2 separate regions of the Homo sapiens genome follow, and region 1 is linked to region 2. The links come from fine-mapping of genetic effects on gene expression. A gene starts in region 2. The other region holds a variant in brackets. All regions are shown on one strand. Distances are between the middles of the regions.

What was found. PIP is the estimated chance that this variant, and not a neighbour inherited with it, causes the effect. A credible set is the group of variants that fine-mapping cannot tell apart.
Region 1: its variant is the best candidate, but not a certain one, in a credible set for the expression of PPP6C in whole blood (INTERVAL, PIP 0.62).

Annotation. Positions count from the first base shown.
Region 1 is chr9:125,144,854-125,156,665 of GRCh38, forward strand. PPP6C (protein phosphatase 6 catalytic subunit) reads right to left here. Exons shown (of 7, transcript NM_002721.5): 5 at 9,053-9,132; 6 at 8,680-8,889; 7 at 1,720-5,068. The coding sequence ends at 4,820. It also overlaps the pseudogene PRPS1P2. Among named protein-coding and RNA genes, the nearest start is that of SCAI, 7.2 kb to the left of the region's middle. The variant G/A (reference allele first, on the strand shown) is at 5,184.
Region 2 is chr9:125,183,604-125,195,415 of GRCh38, forward strand. It overlaps PPP6C (protein phosphatase 6 catalytic subunit), which reads right to left and starts at 6,200. Exons shown (of 7, transcript NM_002721.5): 1 at 6,041-6,200. The coding sequence starts at 6,115. It also overlaps the pseudogene RPSAP76. RefSeq lists enhancers at 5,522-6,308, 6,309-7,095, 6,398-6,477.

The sequences.
Region 1 (11,812 bases), 39 kb before region 2:
AAATTAGTATTTCACGTAATCCTAAAGTCACAGAACCACAAATCACCTCAATCTCAACTAACAGTTTCCACCCATATTATCAAGCCAGAGAGAGGAAAGAACTCGAGAATAATTTGTGTCAGACGAAGGGGGATCATCAACTCACTAGGGAAGTAATCTTGAAATACATTTATTATATTCCTTATTAAAAATCCATTGCCTGCTTTTTAGCATCTTCCATAATTGACCAATCCTCACTGATATATGGCAGATATTGTCAATAAAACAGGACCTATTCATTTCTTACGCCTTCCCAAAAAGGATCCTCGAGTCTTCACATTGTGTCCAAGTGATCTCTGCTTATTTTAACTCTGTAAGACATACAAATCCCATCATTCCAGTCCACACTTAATTCACACTTCCTCTTTATCTTCCCCAATTACTCCATCCTACATCAAACATTTCCTTGTCCAGATGTGTTGTACTTACAAAATCTACACTATGTTAGCAATTATACATTGCCTTGGATTATTCTTCCCAACTACAATGAATTTGAACAAATGGCCTATGAGTATGAGCCCTTAATAAAAGGCAGCTTTGGACCAGATACTGGGTGCTTTGTGTGTGCTATTTTTAATAGTGAGATTAACCCTGCCTGATATTCTCTTATTTTAGACACAGAAACTTAAGATTCAGAAAATTCAATCTGTTCAGGGTCACACAACTACAATAACCAATATTGCTTAAAATAGAGCGCTAAAGAAATACTCTGGTGTGCCCTCTAGGGATTCAAGTTCCAGCTCTCTTGTGCAACGTTAGACAAGTCACCTATCCTCTCTAAGCCTATTTCCTCATCTAGGGGGAGAAAAGTTCTAGAGAAGGATGAACAAGATTTATTAATTTTTTTGAAGTTTGGGCTGGGCACAGTAGCTTATGCTTGTAATCCCAGTGCTTTGGAAGGCCGAGATAGGAGGATCTCTTCAGCCGGGAGTTCAAGACTAGCCCGGGCAACATAGGGAGACCCCATCTCTACCAAGAAAAAAAAAAAATAAAAGGTAATATAGTCATAGACCCATACAGCAAGGGCATCACAAAATAGAGAACATAACAATTTAGCACATATGCTGTATACAGGTTAGTTGCTATTACTGCATGACAGAGCTGGGGTTTTCACCCAGATCTGATCCCAAAGCCTGTGCTATTCCATAATGCCTCCATGCAGTCTTTTATAACCCACCATTTATATACAAAAGCACAGTGCTGCTGAGCATAGTGGGTGCCTAGGGATTGAGTGGAATATACTTATGTAGTATTTTTGTTGACAACACAAATCTATAAATGTCATGCATTTTTGAATTAAGAAAACATTTGAATGATCTAAGCCAGCATAAGCCTACTCTCATGAGGGCACAAATTCACCAATAAATTGATACGGAAATAGAAAACAGGAGGGGAATGCAGAACCAACCTTCCCCAAGCATCTAGTGTGTCTGGCATCATGCTAGGGGACTTTCCAAATGTTTCTTTTTGGTTTACTACCGTGTATTTCGTCAGCATCACTACACACTGTAAATATACAATTTAAAGAGTTGTGATGATCTCATGAAGCATAGTTCTGGGCACTGGATCGAGGTTGTAACAATAAACATTGCCTTTAAAGAGTTGGAACACTTAGCTCAGAGTCAAATGCAAAACAAAAAAAAAAAGGTTTCACTTTTGTTCACCAGTCAAGCAACCAAGTGGAGGAATAAGCATTTTTTAATTTCTTATATAAAATGCTAACTTCTTGTCAGGACATACTACAGACTATGCATTGAATTTTTTGACAAACTTCCTGTAATCTTTTTATTAATTTACACTGAGGGAATATAGCACCTTTCATCCGAAGAACTGAAGGTGCTTTACAAACATTAGCATTTAAAAAACAATTACATTTAAAAATCTGGATTCTTGATGTCAAATCTCTTCGACTCCAGATACACAATTTCCTGGAAGCTGATGGAAAGTGATTCTATTTCTGACAATGAAAGAGGCTCAGAAAGAGTCCTAATTTGCTTTCACAGTACAGGCATTTTCCAAAACCTGGTTCTGGGCTTACAAAGCACACACACACAAATCTTAATGCAATGAACAATATTTCAAACCTTATTTCCCAAAGCAAAACCTAGGGCTTAAGACGTCAAAATCTTCCAACAGTTCTAGACATCCAGACAGAATAGGAGCTGATGCAGATTGCATATGAGATGTACTGTTGATCCAGGTGTTTTAGGATCACACTCAAATGAATATAAAGTAGTGAAACTTTTTGGGGAAACACATTAACTTATAAAAAGCTAGCCAAGAGCATATCGGCCAAAGGAGGAAAGGGAGTAAATGGCAATTCAAAGTAGACAGTTCTCACTAGAGCCTAGGGCACTTTATTAGAAACCAAGTATATCATAGGCAAATAAAAATAGTTTTTACCCCCATTGATACAACATAAGGGATTTTACATTCAGCCTAGATATAGGGAGTAACAAATCCTCCTGCCCATAAATCTATGACTTGCAAGTATCTTCCACCACATGATAACTCTATATAGTACATATAGTACATAGCCCTTATTTATTGGAGGGATCCAAAATATTCCTTGTAGGCTCACAAAGTCCAATACATTAGCTCTCTCTTCCCTTTACACGTCTAATAGTAAAAACTATTTTTTCCATGCAAAAAGCCATTATTCAGTTGAAGAGAAATCAGGCAAAACAGAGATGGCAGATAAGGAATGGAGAGAATATTATTGGCACGTGCCCAACTAGTGACAAACAAATGCAGTACACAATGACTTAAAAATAAAAGTCACATTATAGGGATAACAAAAACAACTACATCAATCTAAGCTAAGGAGTGTCAAACAGGGAGGGCTGGGAGTTACCGGTTCTATTAGTACAACTTAAGTGGAAAGCAAGCACTTAAATACAATTTATGGTAACAGGAAAAAAAAAAATACTGCAGAGAGCTGTTCAAAGACCACACCAAGTTGTCTGCATCATTAATTTCCAGTGTTTCACAATTAGTAAAATACATAGCTACATATCCCTGTGAGATAAAAATACCTTTCCACCTGAATTACACTGGGATCAGGGCAGTAACACGAAGCTACTGACCCAACATTAGTTCAAGTGTGTGCAGCAAATGTCTTAGCCACCTCTTTCATATAGCTATATAATTAAAAACTATGTAAGGAGCTGGGTGGTTTGAGGGAAAAAAATTAAATCAAAACAGTATTGTGCTCAATTAATAAAAGAAAACCCTGATGAAAAATTATATGCCAAGAAGCTTAGACTATAAAGATTTTTATTGCATTTTTAGGTAACCTGGAAGTTCTTATCCTGAAGGGGAAAAGTGGGTTTTCAAAACTACCTGAACAGATGCTAAAGTGCTTTATTAATTGGCTGGCTTCACAAGTATTTCCTGGAATAACAAAAATTAATCATAGTAAAGGGATACCAACTATTTCACAAAATGTACATTCCAACATCATTTATGACTACAGTCATAAGAGATACTGGAATACTTGTCCTTATTAAGTGGACAGTTGCATATTCAGAACTGATCATCACAACCCTTTGGATATTCAAATTACTTACACAAAGCTGAAATATGGTATCACAGACCTTTGCAAAAAAGAAGAACTTGTTTCTTTTTCTACACTTTAAATAATCTGCTTCAGATTACAGTTCACAAATACAAGAGTCCTAACTTTTCAACCTTTCCAGTTGCAGTTTAAAAATGAACACTTTCTAAAAGTTAAGGTCAAGTGTTACAGCAAGAGAAGAATGATTCCTATTGAAAAGCACATAGATTTTAGTTAATAATACTCATGATAGATTGTAAACTGGATTGATCACATTCTACTCAACTGGTATCAAATTAACACATCAGCATTACAAGTATTAAATGTTTTTCTATTACTATAGAGGATATAAACCAAAACATTAATATGGCAGTTATGTTCTTTAGGCACAGTTTAGTGATTTTTTTCAAAAATAAATACTATTGAATTTCAATTGAAGTTTTAAACTCAATAACCAAAGGGTCAAGAACTCTGATTAGGAAAAAAGAAAAGATAACTTTACGCTAACAATGTAAGCTGTTTAAAATTTCTAACACTTAACCTATCTGAGTTTTATTTAAGATTACTTTATTAAAAAATACAAGGAATCTGAAAAAAGATCAATACAATTATCTTAAAGTACAAAGTCATAAGCTGTAGCAGTTTTTAACTAAAATTTAAAAACACAACAAGGAGGGCAGCCCTTTAGACCAATTTATTTTATATCCATTTAAAATATCATCCAACAAAGGACAATGAAGTTTACATCTGGGACAGGTATACATAACTTGAGGCATTTGGAGTCCATCGTGCCCACTGAATAACAACTTTGCTGCTGAAATTTCTTAAAACTTACCAAACTAAAACAAAAGGCTGAATGATACAAAAGGAGGAGTATTTAGGTGTAATCTGTCAATTGGCTTTTAAAAAAAGGAAACACATCCTGTTTCCCAGACCAGTAAATAAGCAAGAGCTACATGCAGCAGTGTGAGTATTAAGACATTTCTCAAGTCTTCTCAAATGAGTCCAGGGTGGGGATGGGATGGGGGAAAATTGATAGAAAAACTTTGCTATAGACACCACAACAAACAATAAATTTAGATAATTTAAAATTTAAAAAAAAAAAGGCAAGAGGCAGCATTTCAGCAGCAAAGTGCTCAATAAAAAGTATATTGTAGAGGGTAATACAAGAAAATTGGGGTAAGAAGAGGGCAGAAAAATGGGTCAGCAGGATGGGCGAAGGCCTCAAAGGAAATATGGCGTTGTCGTTCTGGGAGGAATAACACGTTCTGAATCTGGAACTGCCCGGAATAACTTTGGTTCTCTTGTATTTACATCTTTGAAGACCATGATCGAAGCAATATTTCCACAACGATAGCAGTAATTAGGAGCAGACCATACTGTCACCAGCTTCTCATCAAACATAAATTTATAGCCTTCGTGCACTAGTTGATGTGCTCTGCAGATGAGTTTTAAGTTGTTGATATGAACAAACTGCAATTTAGAAAGGCACTGTAAGTACTTAGCACTTAAAAAACAATCGGCCTACATAATCATTTAAATAAAATACCAAATCCTATTACTACTAAAGGCATCAAGATTATAGAAC[G/A]CACTCTATAATTATCTCCAACAATTTAATAAGTTTAGGCAAACAGCAATTTTGGCCTGAGTCAAGTGCACAACTATGGAAACTGTACAGCTACATAAACAGTTAGAAATTTCTGGAAGAAAAAGCATTCAATAGGTACTATGAAACAAAATTTTGTGTTTTCTGATTTAATAATAAAGATATTGCTATCAGTATCTACCATTTACTGAAGGTTTAGTATATGTAGATGTTGCAATAATTCTGAAAGAGATTATTCTTTTGCAACTTAAGGAAACAAAAGCTCAGACTAGATAAATAACTTATCTAAATTAAGATACACTGATGCAGGATCAGAATCTAGTTTTTTGACTTCATTATGATGCTGGAGCACTTCCCAATATAAGGGGTGTGTGTGTGTGTGTGTGTGTGTTTTAATTGAAAACAGTTGAAAGTTCAAAGTGTGTGTGTGTGTTTTAACTGAAAACAGTTGAAAGTTCAAAGTACTGCCTATCTTGAAGATGGCGGAGTAGCATCGCAAAGAGATTAGTATTGAGTCTCTGGGCCGACTTTGGTTGCAGTCTCTGCAGCAGCAGTGATCACTTAGTGAAGAGTGCTTAGGGTAGTTGGCCAGGATCCTGAATATCAAAATCTTCAGCGGCAGCTCCCACCAGGGCTTATCTCAGAAAACTGCCGATCGCCTGGGCCTGGAGCTCGGCAAGGCAGTGATTGAGAAATTCAGCAACTAGGAGACCTGTGTGGAAATTGGCAAAAGTGTACGTGGAAAGGATGTCTACATCATTCAGAGTGGTTGTGGCAAAATCAATGACAATTTAATGGTGCCTTTGATCATGACTAATACCTGCAAGACTGCTTCAGCGAGCCAGCTTACTGCAGTCATCCCATGCTTCCCTTATGCCCAGCAGGATAATAAAGAGTCAGGTGACAATCTCAGCCAAGCTTGTTGCAAACATGCTATCTGTGGCAGGCGCAGATCATATTATCACCATGGACCTACATGCTTCTCAAATTCAGGGCTTTTTTGATAACCCAGTGGACTATCTGTATGCAGAGCCAGGTGTCCTGAAGTGGATAAGGGAGAATATCTCTGAGCAGAAGAACTGCACTATTGTTTCATCTGATGCTGGTGGAGCTAAGAGAGTGACCTCCATTGCAGACAGGCTGAATGTGGACTTTGCCTTGATTCACAAAGAAGGCCAATGAAGTCGACCGCATGGTGCTTGTGGGAGATGTGAAGGATCTGGTGGCCATCCTTGCGGATGACATGGTTGACACTTGTGGCACAATCTGCCATGCAGCTGACAAACTTCTCTCAGCTGGAGTCACCAAAGTTTATGCTATCTTGACTCACAGAATCTTCTCTGGTCCAGCTATTTCTCACATCAACAACGCATGCTTTAAAGCAGTAGTAGTCACCAATAACATACCCCAGGAGGACAAGATGAAGCACCATTCCAAAATACAGGTGATCAACATCTCTATGAGCCTTGCAGAAGCCATCAGGAAAATTCACAATGAAGAATCCGTTTCTTACCTATTCAGTCATGTCCCTTTATAATACAGTAACTTCTGAGGCTTTTTAAGAATAAAATCCACCCCACCCCTTGTTTTCCCTTGGTATTTGATGACGAATTCAGCAGAAGACCCAGCTTGCTCCAGTGTAGCTTTCTATATCCCACATCAGGTATATCTGAGCTTATCCGAAATGAAGAAAGAAGGATTGAGATTAACTGCTGGGACTTCCTATCTGCATTGTCTCATTCTGGCTTCCTTGATGATTCTGTGAGCCTTGCAGCTTTAACTATAGCTCAGCTGTTACAAGATTTCAGACTTTTGAGGATGTTGTGTGGGGGTGTTTGACTGTGACTGGAGAAGCTCAGACTACTCTGCATGTGAATGCTTCAGGGTTTTCTTTGTTGAGAACAACCAGCAGCAAAGCCAACCCATGTGTGAGCAGTTCTCCCCAAGGTCTATGCTAAATTATGGCAAGAGCCCTGGGCAACCCCAAACCTAGTCCCGGTGGCTGAGCACCCTGTAAGGCAGGAGTAGGCAGTTGGGCTTGAGCAGCCATGGGGTAGGGGGTGGGGGGTGGTTGAGGGGGGAGGCAGCACAGCGCAGCAAATGTTTCTTGGGAGGAAGAAGCCTGATCCATCATCATCTGCTTGACTATGTAGCTTGGATTCTCTTTTGTACCTACTCCTTTGATTTGGCTTTACCTTCATCCATCTTGATCCTTTCCTGGCCAAAGATCCTCTTGGGCCCAAATGAACACTGTACCGTAGTCTTCTGGAAAGCAAATGTGCTTCCTGCTATGTAATCGCTAACATTCACATTACATGATTTGCTGTAGCTTGATCTTCCTTAGCCTACTACCACTGTGGCAGTAGGTTTTAGGTGGTATCATAGTGCCTTTTGATTAATTTAAGTATTTAATTTTCATCTTCTTTCTTTGGATCTATTTGGCTTTTCAAATGAACAGAGATTTCTGTTAAAAAGAAAAAAAAGATTTGACGTAGGCTGGGCGCGGTGGCTCACGCCTGTAATCCCAGCACCTTGGGAGACCAAGGTGGGCAGATGACCTGAGGTCAGGAGTTCAAGACCAGCCTCACCAACATGGTGAAACCCCGTCTCTACTAAAAATACAAAATTAGCCAGGCGTGGTGGTGTACACCTGTAATCCCAGCTACTCGGGAGGCTGAGACAGGAGAATCGCTTGAATCCAGGAGGCAGAGGTTGCAGTGAGCCGAGATTGCACCATTGTACTCCAGCCTGGGCAACATGAGCGAAACTCTTGTCTCAAAAAAAAAAAGATTCATGTTATTGTCTCTTGTAGAGGAAACTAATAAAGTGTCTGTATCTGTGTGATTTGAGGTCTTTGAGAAAAAAAAAAAAAAGTATTGCCTATCTTGGTCTTGCCATTTTGTTACTTAACTACAGTACTTGAAAGGAAAGGGGCTGGCCGGGTGCGGTGGCTCACACCTATAATCCCAGCACTTTGGGAGGCTGAGGCGGGTGGATCACCTGAGGTCAGGAGTTCAAGACCAGCCTAGCCAACACGGTGAAATCCCATCTCTACTAAGAATACAAAAATTAGCCAGGCATGGTGGCGCACACCTGTGGTCCCAGCTACTCAGGAGGCTGAGGCAGGAGAATGGCTTGAACCTGGGAGGCAGAGGTTGTTGCAGTGAGCCAAGATCACGCCACTGCACTCCAGCCTAGGCGACAGAGCAAGACTCCATCTCAAAAACAAAAAAAAAAGGAAAGAACATTTACTTTATACATTATTACCAAATGGATGCTGGAGTAGGTGCTTTCACTGTGTCATCTTATTTAACCATTAAAGAAAGACATACGTTAATAACTAAACTAGAAATTTAATATCCACAGCCACCATATTTTGAGTAAGCTAGACTACAAGTTTGTTATCTAGGGCCACCATAGTTCTCTATGCAGCCCATTAGCAATCCACAAATTACATTTCCAAAAATGTTGGCTTTACCTCATTTGTGACCTTTGCTCCAAAAAGCCAACCTGCTCCTCGGGGACTGATAGCCCAGGTATCCACATCTTCAGGATCTGACCAAACCAGATCACAAAATGCTCCTTTATGAGGAATTTCCTGATTCCGTTCGATGGTTCGAATTTGATCCAGTGTTTTGATATCAGGAGATAAACCACCATGGACACACAAAATCTGCTCATCTATTAACTAGCAAAAAAGGATAACAAAGAGTTGAACATATAACCTCAGGCATATCTAAACTCATCAGTGAATACTAAAGATATCAATATAATTGAGATGACAACTAGATAAAAATATGCAATGTGTTATTGGCAGGAACGTACATGAGACTTTAAAAATAGAAACTTACAGCTGCTACTGTGAGCATGTCAAAAACTTTGGTACAGTATCTCCAGGCATTAGCATTTCCATATTTGGTTTGGCACTCATCTGTGAAAGAAACAGAAGGGTTTTAATTAATGAATCTGCTAATAAAAATAAACAATATATCCAATACTAGAGCAGCCTTCAGTACAACAGAAATTCAGCTTAAACTAGGATAGCAAGATATGACACATATTTAGTCCTGCTAGGACCTCCACATAGAGCCAAAAGAACGCTAGTGACTAACTACATACAGTTGTATGTCCCTTAACCATGGGGATACATTCTAAAAAATGCATTGTTAGGTGATTTCATCGTTGTGTGAACATCATCGGATGTCCTTACATAAACCTAGATGGTCTAGCCTACTACACACCTAGGCAATATGATATAGCCTATTGCTCATAGGCTATAAATTTGTGCAGCATGTAACTGTACTAAATATCATAAGGAAATAGTAACACAATGGTAAGTATTTGTGCAATAGGAATTTTTCAGCTCCGTTTTATCTATGGGACCACTGTCATATATACAGTCCATCATCGACTGAAATGTCATTATGTGGCACATGACTGTATTTCCTAAGGATGTAGTACTGCTCTTCATTCCTGGAATGGACCTAAGAAGCAGCTGAAATTATTAGCCAAAATGCTATCATTAGAAGAGTTAAATACTAATTTCACACAACCTGAAGCAAATGTTTTAACAGTTATGTTAATATTAGGCAATTCTGGTAAGCAGATAAATTTATTTAAGGAGACAATTCTAGCAGGATAAACAGATCAAACAAATTAGAGGATCCTTAGTTATAGGAGCATGAGCAATTCCTAACTCTTCTCAGGGCTAAGTTGTCTCTTCTGAGATTTTCTGCAAATCGTGCGACTAAACACTTGAGCTTCAGTGGATCAAAACTGAGGACAGATTGCCAATCAGGTTCTTACAAATTCTCAGTTGAACACTCTTTCTGCTGCCTACGTAGTTTTTTGTTTTTGAGACAAGGTCTCACTCTATTGCCCAAGTTGGAATACAGTGGCACAATCAGCAGTGGCGCGATCACAGCTCACTGCAACCTCAACCACTTGGGTTCAAGCGATCCCACCACCTCAGCCTTCTGAACAGCTGGAACTACAGGCAAGTGCCACCACACCTGGCTAATTTTATTTCTGGTAGAGATGGGGATCTCCCTATGTTGTCCAGGCTGGTCTTGAACTCCTGAGCTCAAGCAATCCTCCTACCTCAGCCTCCCACAGTGCTGAGAATACAGATGTGAGCCACTGTACCCTGACTGTCTACATAGTTAATAGGGTACACACTTCTTTTGTTAACACCATGGAAGCTCTGTACTTTGGCTTCTTCCATAATTTTAGAAAAAAAAAAACCTGACATATCACTATTGCCTTAAGTGAAGCTGAAAATGATATAGGAAAGAAGTCTGCAGGTTATGACCAATCCCCAAGATTTTCTCAATTATATATCTACGTGAAGCAAGATTGTTATGTAAACTTGCCATAAGAGAGCCCTAACAATGAGCTCAGGTTGCAGGCAGGGATCTTGAACTTGGCTCAATAGTAACTGCCCAGTATGTGTTTATCAGTGTGAACTGAAGTCCCAGTGTAAAGTCATATAGGGATATTTTATTCCTTGAAAATCAATATAAGTCCTATAATAACTAAAATTATCTTATTCAAAACATATGTCATATGGCTGGACGCAGTGCCTCATGCCTGTAATCCCAGCACTTTGGGAGGCCGAGGCGGGCGGATCACAAGGTCAGGAGATTGAGACCATCCTGGCTAACACGGTGAAACCCTGTCTCTACTAAAAAATACAAAAAAATTAGCCGGGCATGGTGGCGGGCGCCTGTAGTCCCAGCTACTTGGGAGGCGGAGGCAGGAGAATGGCGTGAACCCAGTAGGCAGAGCTTGCAGTGAGCGAAGATCGCACCACTGCACTCCAGCCTGGGTGACAGAGCGAGACTCCGTCTCAAAAAAAAAAAAAAAAAAAAGTCATATATTAGCCATATATAACAATATGTATTTTATATATTATACATGTAGCATTAGTTACATATATATAGTAGGTGTGTGTGTTTTTATAACATTAGTTTTAGTACTGTTTTCACTGAGCTAATATCATAGTATGTTATCCAAAATATTGATTATTTTGCAAAAGAATCCAAAAGTTGTATTTCAATTGGTGTTTATTTTGTGAATGAAAATAAAAAGTCACCTGTAGAAAGGAGATAAATATTACCTAACTTTACACGTATTAAAAAAATTATATAAAAACAATAAATTCTCAAAATTTCTCTAATTGATAATGGCAGACAAACTGAAGAGTAAGAGAGTTCAGATTATCTTTGCTTTGTTTCGTTTTGAGACAGCCTCACTGTCATCCAGGCTGGAGTGCAATGGTGCAATCTCGGCTCACTGCAACCTCCACCTCCCGGGTTCAAGGGATTCTCCTGCCTCAGCCTCCCGAATAGCTGGGACTACAGGCAAGTGCCACCATGCCCAGCTAATTTTTGTATTTTAAGTAGAGACGGGGTTTCACCATGTTGGCCAAGATGGTCTCGATCTCCTGACCTTGTGATCTGCCTGCCTCAGCCTCCCAAAGTACTGGGATTACAGGCATGAGCCACCACACCTGGCCCAGCCTATCTTTATAATGAAAGAAGATAATTCAAAATATAAAATTTAAATCTAAAGGGTTCTGCAATTAATGTTTCCAAATCTCTCAATATCTG
Region 2 (11,812 bases):
TTCTTTCCAGTACCACCTCCAGCCATACCAAACCACTTCAAGTTCCCCGAACCAGCCATGTTCTTGCAAATTACATTATACTATTGCACATGGTGTTTATTCTGTTTGCATGTTCTTTCCTTCTCATTTTGTCTACCTGAACTCTGCCCCTCGTAACTGCTCCTTTATGAAATCATCTCTGACTCTAAAGTTACATACTGCTTCTTCTGTTTGCCAACACCCTGGTCAGCCTCTATTACAGTCTTTGTTTACCTCCTTACCTCCCTTACTATATTGAAAGCCCCTCAAAGGCAGACACAAGTATCCAATTCTGCCCCTGGCACCCACAGGGAACAGTACTCAACACAAGGAACCATGTAAATAAGTGTTTGTTGGCTGGGCACAGTGGCTCACACCTATAATCTCAGCATTTTGGGAGGCCAAGGCAGGAGAATCACCTGAAGCATTTGGGACCAGCCTGGACAGCATAGCAAGACGCTATCCCTTAAAAAAATTTTTTTTTTGCCAGGCGCGGTGGCTAACGCCTATAATCCCTGCACTTTGGGAGGCCAAGGCGGGTGGATCACGAGGTCAGGAGATTGAGACCATCCTGGCAAACACAGTGAAACCCCATCTTTACCAAAAATACCAAAAAACTAGCCAGGCATGGTGGCATGCATCTGTAGTCCCAGCTACTTGGGAGGCTGAGGCAGGAGAATTGTTTGAACCCAGGAGGCAGAGGTTGCAGTGAGCCGAGATCGCGCCATTACACTCCAGCCTGGTGACAGAGTGAGACTCCATCTCAAAAATAAAAATAATAATTAATCAGCTGGGCACACTATTGCACACCTGTACTCCCAGCTACTTTTGAGGCTGAGGCAGAAGGATCAATTGAGCCCAGGAGTTTGAGGTTGCAGCAAGCTACAACTGCACCACTGCACTCCACCCTGGGCAGCAGACTGAGACCCTACCTCAAAGAAAAAAAAAAAAAGAAGAAGAAGAAACAAGTATTTGTCATAAAGCAGTAAACAGTTTGAGTCAATAAACCTTTACTGATTATCACATACAGGGCAGTGTTCTAAAATTGTGGAAAACACAAATAAGGAATGGCCAAACACAGTGGCTCACATCTGTAATCCCAACACTTTGGGAGGCCGAGGTGGGCGGATCACCTGAGGCCAGAAGTTCGAGACCAGCCTGGCCAACATGGTGAAACCCCATCTCTACCAAAAAATATATATATACAAAAATTAGCTGGGTGTGGTAGTGCGCACCTGTAATCCCAGCTGAGGCAGAACTGCTTGAACCCAGGAGGTGGAGACTGCAGTGAGCTGAGATGGTACCACTGTACTCCAGCCTGGGCAATAGAGTTAGATTCAGTCTCAAAAAAAAAAAAAAAAAAAAAACCTCAGGTAAACATGTCACCCTTAAGAACTGTCCAAGAGATTAGACAACCTCCAAGTTATAGAACCCCTGCTCCCCAAAAATATTAATACTTAAATATAAGTATTCAGTAAACCTGCCTTTATCATTAATTCTTCCATTTAGCCAGGTATGGAATCTGTATCTTTTATTAATCTCTCTGAAATCTTTCTTGTGGATAAAATCACATGAGCTCTTTATAAGAAAGGTTACACTGTGGTCCATTTACTTTCACATATGTCATTTTTTTTTTTTTTTGAGACAGGGTCTCGCTCTGTTGGCCAGGCTGGAGTGCAGTGGCATGATCTCGGCTCACTGCAACCTCCATCTCCCAGGCTCAAGCAATTCTCCTGCCTCAGCCTCCCGGCCCACATATGTCATTCTTATTCCTTCAAAACTGTTATGTATGCCAGGCATGGTGGCTCACGCCTGTAATCCCAGCACTTTGGGAGGCTGAGAAGGGTGGATCACCTGAGGTCAGGAGTTTGAGACCAGCCTGGCCAACATGGTGAAACCCCATCTCTACTAAAAATACAAAAATTAGCCAGGAGTGGTGGTGGGTGCCTGTAATCCCAGCTACTCAGGAGGCTGAGGCAGGAGAATCGCTTGAATCCGGGAGGCGGAGGTTGCAGTGAGCTGAGAACGTGCACCTGCACTCTAGCCTGGGCAACAGAGCAAGACTCCGTCTCAAAAAAACAAACTAACAGGCCAGGCTCACACCTATAATCCCAGCACTTTGGGAGGCCGAGGTGGGTGCATCATCTGAGGTGAGGAGTTCGAGACCAGCCTGAACAACATGGGGAAACCTGGTCTCTACTAAAAATACAAAATTAACTGGGCGTGGTGGCACATGCCTGTAATCACAGCTACTCAGGAAGGCTGAGGCAGGAGAATCGCTTGAACCCGGGAGGCAGAGGTTGCAGTGAGCCAAGCTCACGCCATTGCACTCCACCCTGAGCAACAAGAGCGAACAAACAAACAAAAACAGTTATGTAGATTTGATCCAGTACTAGTGATGTGACCATTTCCAACTTAGCGAAACAGAAATTGTGATTAAATCTGGAACATCGTATGCATTTAGTATTTTATCTTCTAATCAATTTAAAACACAAGTAAATTTCTGTCTTCTTTTCTACAGAACAAATCTTTTCCATCTTGCTCATTAAGTGGCCTCAATGATTACTTTTCTTAATAGAATGTTTTATTTTGCCTTTACAGCCTCAGAAAAAGTACTCCTGGCATACTTTCTTGGCCTAATTTTAGGTTGCACTTCATGCCAAGAAACAGAAAAAAATTAAATTTCTTTAAATACACCAGAGATGAGCAACACAACAAATTAATCTGATAAAAGCATTTCCAAGACAGAAAAAAAAGTCTCTACCTATAAAGAAAAATTCAGAATACTTTTGTCTTGGTTGCCCAAAACATATATTTTTAAGTTTATTAAGAAATGGATACAGGCCAAGTATAGTGGCTCATGCCTGTTATCCCAGCATTTTGGGAAGCCAAGGTGGGAGGATCGCTTGAGCCCAGGAGTTCAAGACTGGCCTGGGTAACATAGCAAGACCCTGTCTCTACCAAAAAAATAAATAAAAATTAGCTGGTCATGGGGGCATGTGCCTGTGGTCCCAGCTTCTCAGGAGGCTAAGGTGGGAGGACTGCCTGAGCCCAGGAGGTCGAGGCTGCAATGAGCCATGATTGTGCCACCACACTACAGCATGGGTGAGAGTGAGACCATGTCCCCGCTCCCCCACCAAAAAAAAGATTAAAAATTTTTTTAAGAAAAAAAAAGAAACAAATACAAGTCAAGTACAATGCAGCTATGTTTCAACAAGAAATAAAATGGTCTAAAAATTGTACTTCCTTAAGGTAAGAAGGAAATCTAATGTTTATCAAACTAAGAGGTACAAAGAAGTCCAACAGATTTTTCTTTCTTTTTTTTTTTTTTTTTTTTTTTGGTGAGACGGAGTCTCCCTCTGTCACCCAGGCTGGACTGCAGTGGCGCAATCTTGGCTCACTGCAACCTCCGCCTCCCTGGTTCAAGCGATTCTCCTGCCTCAGCCTCCCAAGTAGCTGGGATTCCAAGCACCTGCCACCACCTCCAGTTTATTTTTGTATTTTTAGTACAGACGGGGTTTCACCATGTTGGCCAGGCTGGTCTCGAGCTCCTGACCTCAAGTGATCCACCTGCCTCAGCCACCCAAAGTGCTGGGATTACAGGCGTGAGCCACTGCACCTGGCCAGATTATCTTTCAAATCATTTCAGTGCCCAATTTCCTTTTCTTTTTTTTTGAGACAGAGTCTTGCTCTGTCTCCCAGGCTGGAGTACAGTGGTGTGATCCCGGCTCACTGCAAGCAATTCTCCCGGGTTCAAGCCATTCTCCCTGCCTCAGCCTCCCAAGTAAGTAAACTGGGATTACAGGCACCTACCACCATGCTCGGCTAATTTCTGTGTTTTTAGTAGAGAGGGGGTTTCACCAAGTCGGTCAGTCTGGTCTCAAACTCCTGATCTCAAATGATCTGCCCACCTCAGCCTCCCCAAGTACTGAGATTACGCCACTGTGCCCTAGACACATTTTCATAAAAAGCAACATTTTATTCATCATAAACACAAAGTTCAAAAAAGCTTTATGCATGATAAATAAGAAGAAAAAATTCCATGTCAATTCACTGACATGCAATAGTCAACCTCACCTATGGGATTAATAATGCTACTAAGAGGTCTGGTTAGTTTTCCATGAATTGGGTCCCAATGCTAGTTGTATTCTTATTCCCTTAAAAAAACCACATAGCAGAAAGAAGCCACAAAAGGAATGTCTGAAGGACTCAGATGAGCACAAATGCTACATTACTACTAACGAAGGCTGTCCTTATTTGAAATTATTCTATTAAAAACGGGAAAATGCACAAGAATGACTCCCCTATCATATGCCACATAAAATTAACAGGTAAGTACAATTCAGTCACATTCACAACAGCACGTGTGGCCTCAAATATTATGCATACTTGTTGACTGATGTTAAGTATCAACTTACTGTACAAAGAAGAAATAAAACAAAACCCACAGTAATATATTTCCTTAAGAATACACTGAGTCGGGGCTGGGCACGGTGGCTTACGCCTGTAATCCCAGCACTTTGGGAGGCCGAGGCGGGCGGATCACGAGTTCAGGAGATCGAGACCATCCTGGCTAACACGGTGAAACCCCGTCTCTACTAAAAATACAAAAAATTAGCCAGGCGTGGTGGCGGGCACCTGTAGTCCCAGCTACTCGGGAGACTGAGGCAGGAGAATGGCGTGAACCCGGGAGGCGGAGGTTGCAGTGAGCCGAGATGGTGCCACCGCACTCCGGCCTGGGCGACAGAGCGAGACTCCGTCTCAAAAAAAAAGAATACACTGAGTCGGTTAAATACTAGCACGAGCTGATAAGCACTGCTAGAAACCTAAGCTCTGATTTCAGCAAATGCATAGAAACACTTTTCAAAGAAGCAGTATACCTAGGCCGGCGCGGTGGCTCACGCCTGTAATACCAGCACTTTGGTAGGCCGAAGCGGGCGGATCACTTGAGGTCAGGAGTTCAAGACCAGCCTGGCCAACATGGCGAAACCCCGTCTCTACTAAAAATACAAAACAGCCGGGCGTCGTGACGGGCGCCTGTAATTCCACCTAGTCGGGAGGCTGAGGCAGGAGAATCGCTTGAACCCGGGAAGTGGAGGTTGCAGTGAGCCAAGATCGCACCGCTGCACTCCAGCCTGGGTGACAGAGTGAGACTCTATCTCAGTTAAAAACAATAATAATAATAATAATAATAATAATTAAAAAGTTTTAAAAAAGAAAAGCAGTATACCAAAGTCATTCCTTTACCCATACATACATTTACTCTTACTTGGACTCAGGAGTAACAAGGAACTCACCTCCTTTAGAAAACGAAGAAAATGAAATACTGAGTTAAGAAGGGGTTAAGGAGAAAGTATTTGTATTTATTGAGAACCAACTACTTTATCCACTTCAGTAAGCTCAACAACATACTCAGAAACGGGATTCACCTCTGAATTAGCAAAACCGACGATCCTAAAAAGCAATTTGGAGGAGTGGCAATGAAGAGGGACGACCTGACGTTCGCTCCCGCCAGTACCAAACCACTCGGGCCCACCGCCTTCCCCTTCCTCAGAGACCTAAACACACTGAGGCCGCGTTCCGGTAGCCGGTGGCATCTCCTGTCAGACGCCGGCCACTCCGCGCTCCTGTCACCTCCGGTGGAGGCGACCCCATCCCGAGGGCACTGCCGCGGGGGCTCGGCTCCGACTGCGGGAGACCCAGGGATGGGGTGGGGAGCCGAGCCTTCTAAATAAAGCTGTTACAGCTGCGGGTCCTGGGGCAGCCCGAAGGCCAGAAGGGGCGACCCTGGGACAGAGGCCGCGACATCCCTCGGGATCCCCACTGAGGCAACCGGGACAGCATTCGACGACTCGGCTCGCGAGACCCTCGGCGTGACGCCGGGTAGGACCGGGTCGACTGGCAATGGGGGAGGCCCTCCACCGCGACTGGACTGGATACCCGGCGGGGGTCCTGGAGAAAGGAAGGGCCGGCCGGCGGGCGCCCCACAGCCGGAAGGGGCGAGCCCGCAAATAGGGCTCACCTTCAGGTCGTTCTCTGGCAGGTACTTGCACAGCCGCGCTATTTCCACATACTTGTCCAGGTCTAGCGGCGCCATTTTAAGAATAACAAGCCGCGGCAACAGCGGCGGCGGCGGCTGTAGCAGCGGCGGCGGCAGCGGCGGAGGCCGAAGCCGGAACTTTCCCTGCGTCACGTCCGGCCCGTGAGTGGCGCCTGCGCAGCGCCGTTAAAGCGCGACCCGTTTCTCCCCGCTACGTCGGTACGCCCGGCGCCCCCTCTGGCTGAACCCCGACTGCAGGCCCCAAGAGAGCCCGCTTCGGTCCACCCCGCGAAACCTGCTGGGACCCGTAGTCGTCTGCCGCGGGGGTGCTGGGATGTGTAGTTTTCTGTTGTGGACAGCCACCCCTCTCTTTTCCTCCCGTTCCTCCAGACTTTCACCTCCCGGCAGCCGGCGAGGCTTTTCCGAGGCAAAACAGCGGAGTAGGTGGTCCTAGCCACTCACTGGTTTGTTTTTCCAACCCTTTTAAGCACTCTCCAGAATATCTTCACTTAACAATTGGGTAAGCCTGGCCGTAGTAACCGTTTGCACCTTTCCAAGTCCCTGTGAAAACCTCGCCTAAGCCTGTGGCAGAGATGTCAGGCCCCAGTCTTCCAGCCTGAAAGGAAGGGAAACGAATATTATTAAAGCATTTCTGATGCTAAATGCGATACAAATGATATTTTTCCTTTTAATCTTCGTAACGATTGATAGGAAAGTGAGGCTAGGAAACTGCAGTTCACCCCAAATCTCACAGGGAACAAAATGGTGGGGTCAAGATTGAAAAATGGCTTAAGCTTAAGCATGCTTCCAGTGAGAATCCCACGAGGGCAGGGAGTTTTTTGCTGTAACTCCAGCACCGAGAACAGTACCTGGTACTAGCATACCTTCAGCGTTCGTTTATCCAACCACTCTTTGCTGAGCAACAAAGATGTGCCAGGTACAGCTCAAGGCGCTTGCAGTACTTCGTGAACAAAATAGACAAAGATCTCTATTCTATCTGTAGCTACAAAAAGTACCAAAATTAGCCTGGCGCGGTAGTGCGTGCTTGTGGTCCCAGCTACTCTGGAGGCTGAGGCAGGAGAACCGCTTGAGTTGGGAGGCGGAGGTTGCAGTGAGCTGAGATCGCGGCACTGCACTCCAGCTTGGGCGACAGAGCGAGATCCTCCTCAAAAATAAATTAGTAAAAGGAGCTGCTGTATGGGACTAGGGGTGGGGGTGCAATGCCTATAGCTAAGAGACCAGTTAAGAGACTGTTATGTAATCCAATAGTAGCAGGCGCTCAATAAATATTTGTTGCTCAAGAGACCCTGGAATTAATCCTCTTGCTCTCTAAAGTATATTTTGTGGACAATTGGCTAACCCTGAATGAGATATCTGGGTGAACTTCTTTGTATTATTCTTGTAACTCCTCTGAAAGTATGAAATTGTTTCAAAGTAAAATTAATTTTTAGAAGTTTGTTGCAGAATGAATGATGCCCACAAGCATTCATTTCTTCATTCATTAAACTAATAGTTACATAGTGCCTATTGGCCAGGCCGCGGTGGCTAATGCCTGTAATCTCAGCACTTTGGGAGGCCAAGGCAGGCAGATCACCTGACGTCAGGAGTTCAAGACCAGCCTGGCCAACATGCCGAAACCCCATCTCTACTAAAAATACAAAATACTGGGGAGGCTGAGGCAGGAGGATCACTTGAATTGCTTGAGGCAGAGGTTGCAGTGAGCTGAGATGGCGCCACTGTACTCCAGCCTGGGCCACAGAGTGAAACTCCATCTCAAAGAGAAAAGAAACCAGAGGTTACACAGTGCTTATGATGTGAATAAAACAGATATGATCCCTGCCCTAATCAGGCTTACAATCTGCTGGGAAGAGACAAACAGTATTTATTTATTTATTTACATTTACTGGTTTATTATTAATATAAAGGATATTACAAAGGATACAAATGAAGAGATGCATAGGGTGAGGTAATTAAAATTTTTGTTTTTGTTGAGGCCGGGTGCAGTGGCTCAAACTTGTAATCCCAGTAGTGAAGCCAAGGTGAGCAGATATCTTGAGGCTAGGAATTCAAGACCATCCTGGCCAACATGGTGAAACCTGATCTCTACTAAAAATACAAAAATTAGCTGGGCATTGTAGCACATGCCTGTAATCCCAGCTACTCCGGAGTCTGAGGCATGAAAATTGCTTTGAGGTGGGGGTTACAGGGAGCTGAGGTCGTGCCACTGCACTCCAGCCTGGCCAACAGAAAAAAAAAAAAAATTGTTGAGGTGAGGTCTTGCTGAGGCTGGTTTTAAATTCCTGGCCTCAAGCTATTCCGCTGCTTTGGCCTCCCAAAGTGCTGGGATTATACGTGTAAGCCACCATACCTGGCAGTGAGCAAATATTTAATTGCAAATTGTGATTAGTACTCAAAAGGGAAAATAGGAGGTACTATAAGCAAGAAAAATGGAGTAGACGAGGTCTACCTTTGGCTGGGCACAGTGGCTCACGCCTGTAATCCCAGCATTTTGGGAGACCGAGGCGGGCAGGTCTTTTTGAGGTCAGGAGTTCCTGACCAGCTGAGATCCCACCACTGCACTCTAGCCTGGGAGAGAAAGTGAGACCCTGTCTAAAAAAAAAAAAAAAACAAAAAACTACATTTTCTTACCTGTACTTGTGTCCTTTGGGGGAAAAAAAAGGGCCCAGCATGGTGGCACACGCCTGTAATCCCAGCACTTTGGGAGGCCGAGGCGGACGGATCATGAGGTCAGGAGTTTGAGACCAGCCTGGTCAATATAGTGAAACCCTGTCTCTACTAAAAATACAAAAAATTAGCCGGGTATGGTGGTGTGTGCCTGTAATCTCAGCTACTTGGGAGGCTGAGGCAGGAGAATTGCGTGAACCTGGGAGATGGAGGTTGCGGTTGCAGTGAGCTGAGATAGCGTCATTGCACTCCAGCCCGGGTGACAATGCAAGGCTCCGTCTTAAAAAAAAGAAAAAGAAAAAAAGAAAGAAAGAAAAAGAAAAACTTAGCCTGGTGTGGTGGCACGTGCCTGTGATCCCAGCTACTCAGGAGACTGAAGCAGGAGAATCACTTGAACCTGGGAGGCAGAGGTTGCAGTGAGCCGAGATCGCACCACTGCACTCCAGCCTGGACAACAGAGCGAGACTCCGTCTCAAAAAAAAGAGGCCTACTTTAGGTTGATAACACAGAGGAGGTAAAGTACAGGATGTAGCTTCTAGCACCATGTGGGCAGAGTTCAAATACAGGCTCTACCACTTATTGTGTGATTTTGGTTTGGAGAAGTTATTTATCCTTTCTGTACTCCAGTTTTCTCAGCTCCAATATGGAGATAATAATAATGCTTACCTCCTCTGGAGATTGTAAGAATACTACTTACCTCATAGGCTTGTACAAAGGTTTAACAGAGTTGGTATATGAAAATGGCTTAAAACAATGTCTGGGCCGGGCACAGTGGCTCATACTTGTGATTCCAACACTTTGAGAGGCCAAGGCAGGAGGATCACTTGAGCCAAGGAGTTCAAGACCAGACTGGGCAACATAGTGAGACCTCATCTCTACCAAAAAAAAAAAAAAATTAAAATTAGCCAGGTTTGGTGCTGGCACATACCTGTAGACCCAGCTACTCTAAAGACTGATGTGGGAGGATCACTTGAGCCCAGGAGGCCAAGGCTGCAGTGAGCTGTGATTGTGTCACTGTACTACATCAGGGTGACAGTGAGACTCTGTCTCAAAACAAAAAACAAAGACAAAAAAACATTGTCTAGCACAGAGTGAGTGCAATATGAGTGTTAACTCTGAGTATTAGGTGGGCAGGAAAGGCATTTCTGAAGGTGTAACATGTAAGACTTCAGAAAAAAAAATGTAGGAGGCTGGGCATGGTGGCTCACGCCTGTAATCACAGCACTTTGGGAGGCCCAGGCGGGCAGATCACTTGAGGTCAGGAGTTCAAGACAGGCCTGGTCAACATGGTGAAACCCCGTCTCTACTAAAAATACAAAAATTAGCCAGGCATGGTGGTGCATGCCTGTAATCCCACCTACTGGGAAGGCTGAGGCAGGAGAATCGCTTGAACCCGGGAGGCAGAGGTTGCATTGAGCCGACATTGCGCCACTGCACTCCAGACTGGGTGACAAAGCGAGACTCCATCAAAAAGAAAGAAAGAGAGAAAGAGAGAGAGGGAGGGGAGGGGAGGAAAAAAAGGCAGGACAGGTGCAATGACTCATGCCTGTAATCCCAGCACTTTGGGAGGCTGAGGTGGGCAGATTGCTTGGGCCCAGGAGTTCGAGACCAGCCTGGGAAACATGGCAAAACCCCATCTCTACAAAAAATATAAAAATTAGCCGGGCATGCTGGCATGTGCCTGTAGTCCCAGCTACTCAAGAGGCTGAGGCGGGAGGATTGCTTGAGCCCCAGAGGCGGAGGTTGCAGTGAGCCAAAGTTGTGCCACTGCACTCCAGCCTAGGCAACAGAGTGAGACCCTGTCTCAAAAAAAAAAAAGGAAAAAAAGGTAAAGGGATAATCTGCTCAGAATTTCTTGGAGAAAAAAATTCAAATGGAAGAAGATGCTGTTCTTGTTTAGATATTTTTCTTTTTTTTTTTTTTTAGAAACTGATGTTTATGGCCAGGCACGGTGGCCATAAACACACACACCTGTAATCCCAACACTTTGGGAGGCCAAGGCGGGCGGATGACGAGGTCAGGAGATCGAGACCAACCTGGCCAATGTGACGAAACACCGTCTATACTAAAAATACAAAAATTAGCCTGCCTGTAATCCCAGCTACTCAGGAGGCTGAGGCAGGAGAATTGCTTGAAACAGGGAGTCAGAGGTTTCAGTGAGCCGAGATTGCGCCACTGCCCTCCAGCCTGGCGAAAGAGCGAGACTGTCTCAAACAAAAAAAAAAAAAAAGAAACTGATGCCTATTTTCCATCAACCTTATTTCCAAGTTGCTTAAGAGTCCCTGCAAGAACAATTTAAAACCATTCAGTGGTCTGAACAGTGGGAGCTGCAGACCAGTCTTCCGTGGCAGGCTGAGTGCTCCAGTCTTCAGTAGGGAACTGCTGAATAGGCACAGAGGATACCTGCACCCTTCAGACCAGTCTGCAACCTCAGGCTGAGTAACAGTGAACTCAGGAGCTGGAGCAGTCCATTCACCCTGAAATTCCTCCTTTGTCACAGCCTTTTCAGTAGCAGCTTGCTCTTCTTTTTCAATCTCTTCAGGATCTCTGTAGAAGTAGAGATTAGGCAGGCCGGGCGCAGTATCTCACGCCTGTAATCCCAGCACTTTGGGAGGCCAAGGCGGGCAGATCATGAGGTCAGGAGATTGAGACCATCCTGGCTAACACGGTGAAACCCCGTCTCTACTAAAAATACAAAAAAATTAGCCGGGCATGGTGGCAGGCGCCTGTAGTCCCAGCTACCTGGGAGGCTGAGGCAGGAGAATGGTGTGGACCCAGGAGGCAGAGGTTGCAGTGAGCCGAGATTGCGCCACTGCACTCCAGCCTGGGCGACAGAGCGAGACTGCGTCTCAAATAAAAAAAAAAAAAGAAGTAGAGATCAGGCATGAGCTCCCACAGGTGTTCACAGGAAATGGTGCCACCTTTGTGCAGAACTTCCTGAGCCAGCATCCACCACATCAAACCCACTGAGTGAGCTCCCTTGTTGTTGCATGGGATGGCAATGTCCACATACTGCAGAGGAGAATCTGTATTACACAGAGCAATGGTAGGTAGGTTAACATAAGATGC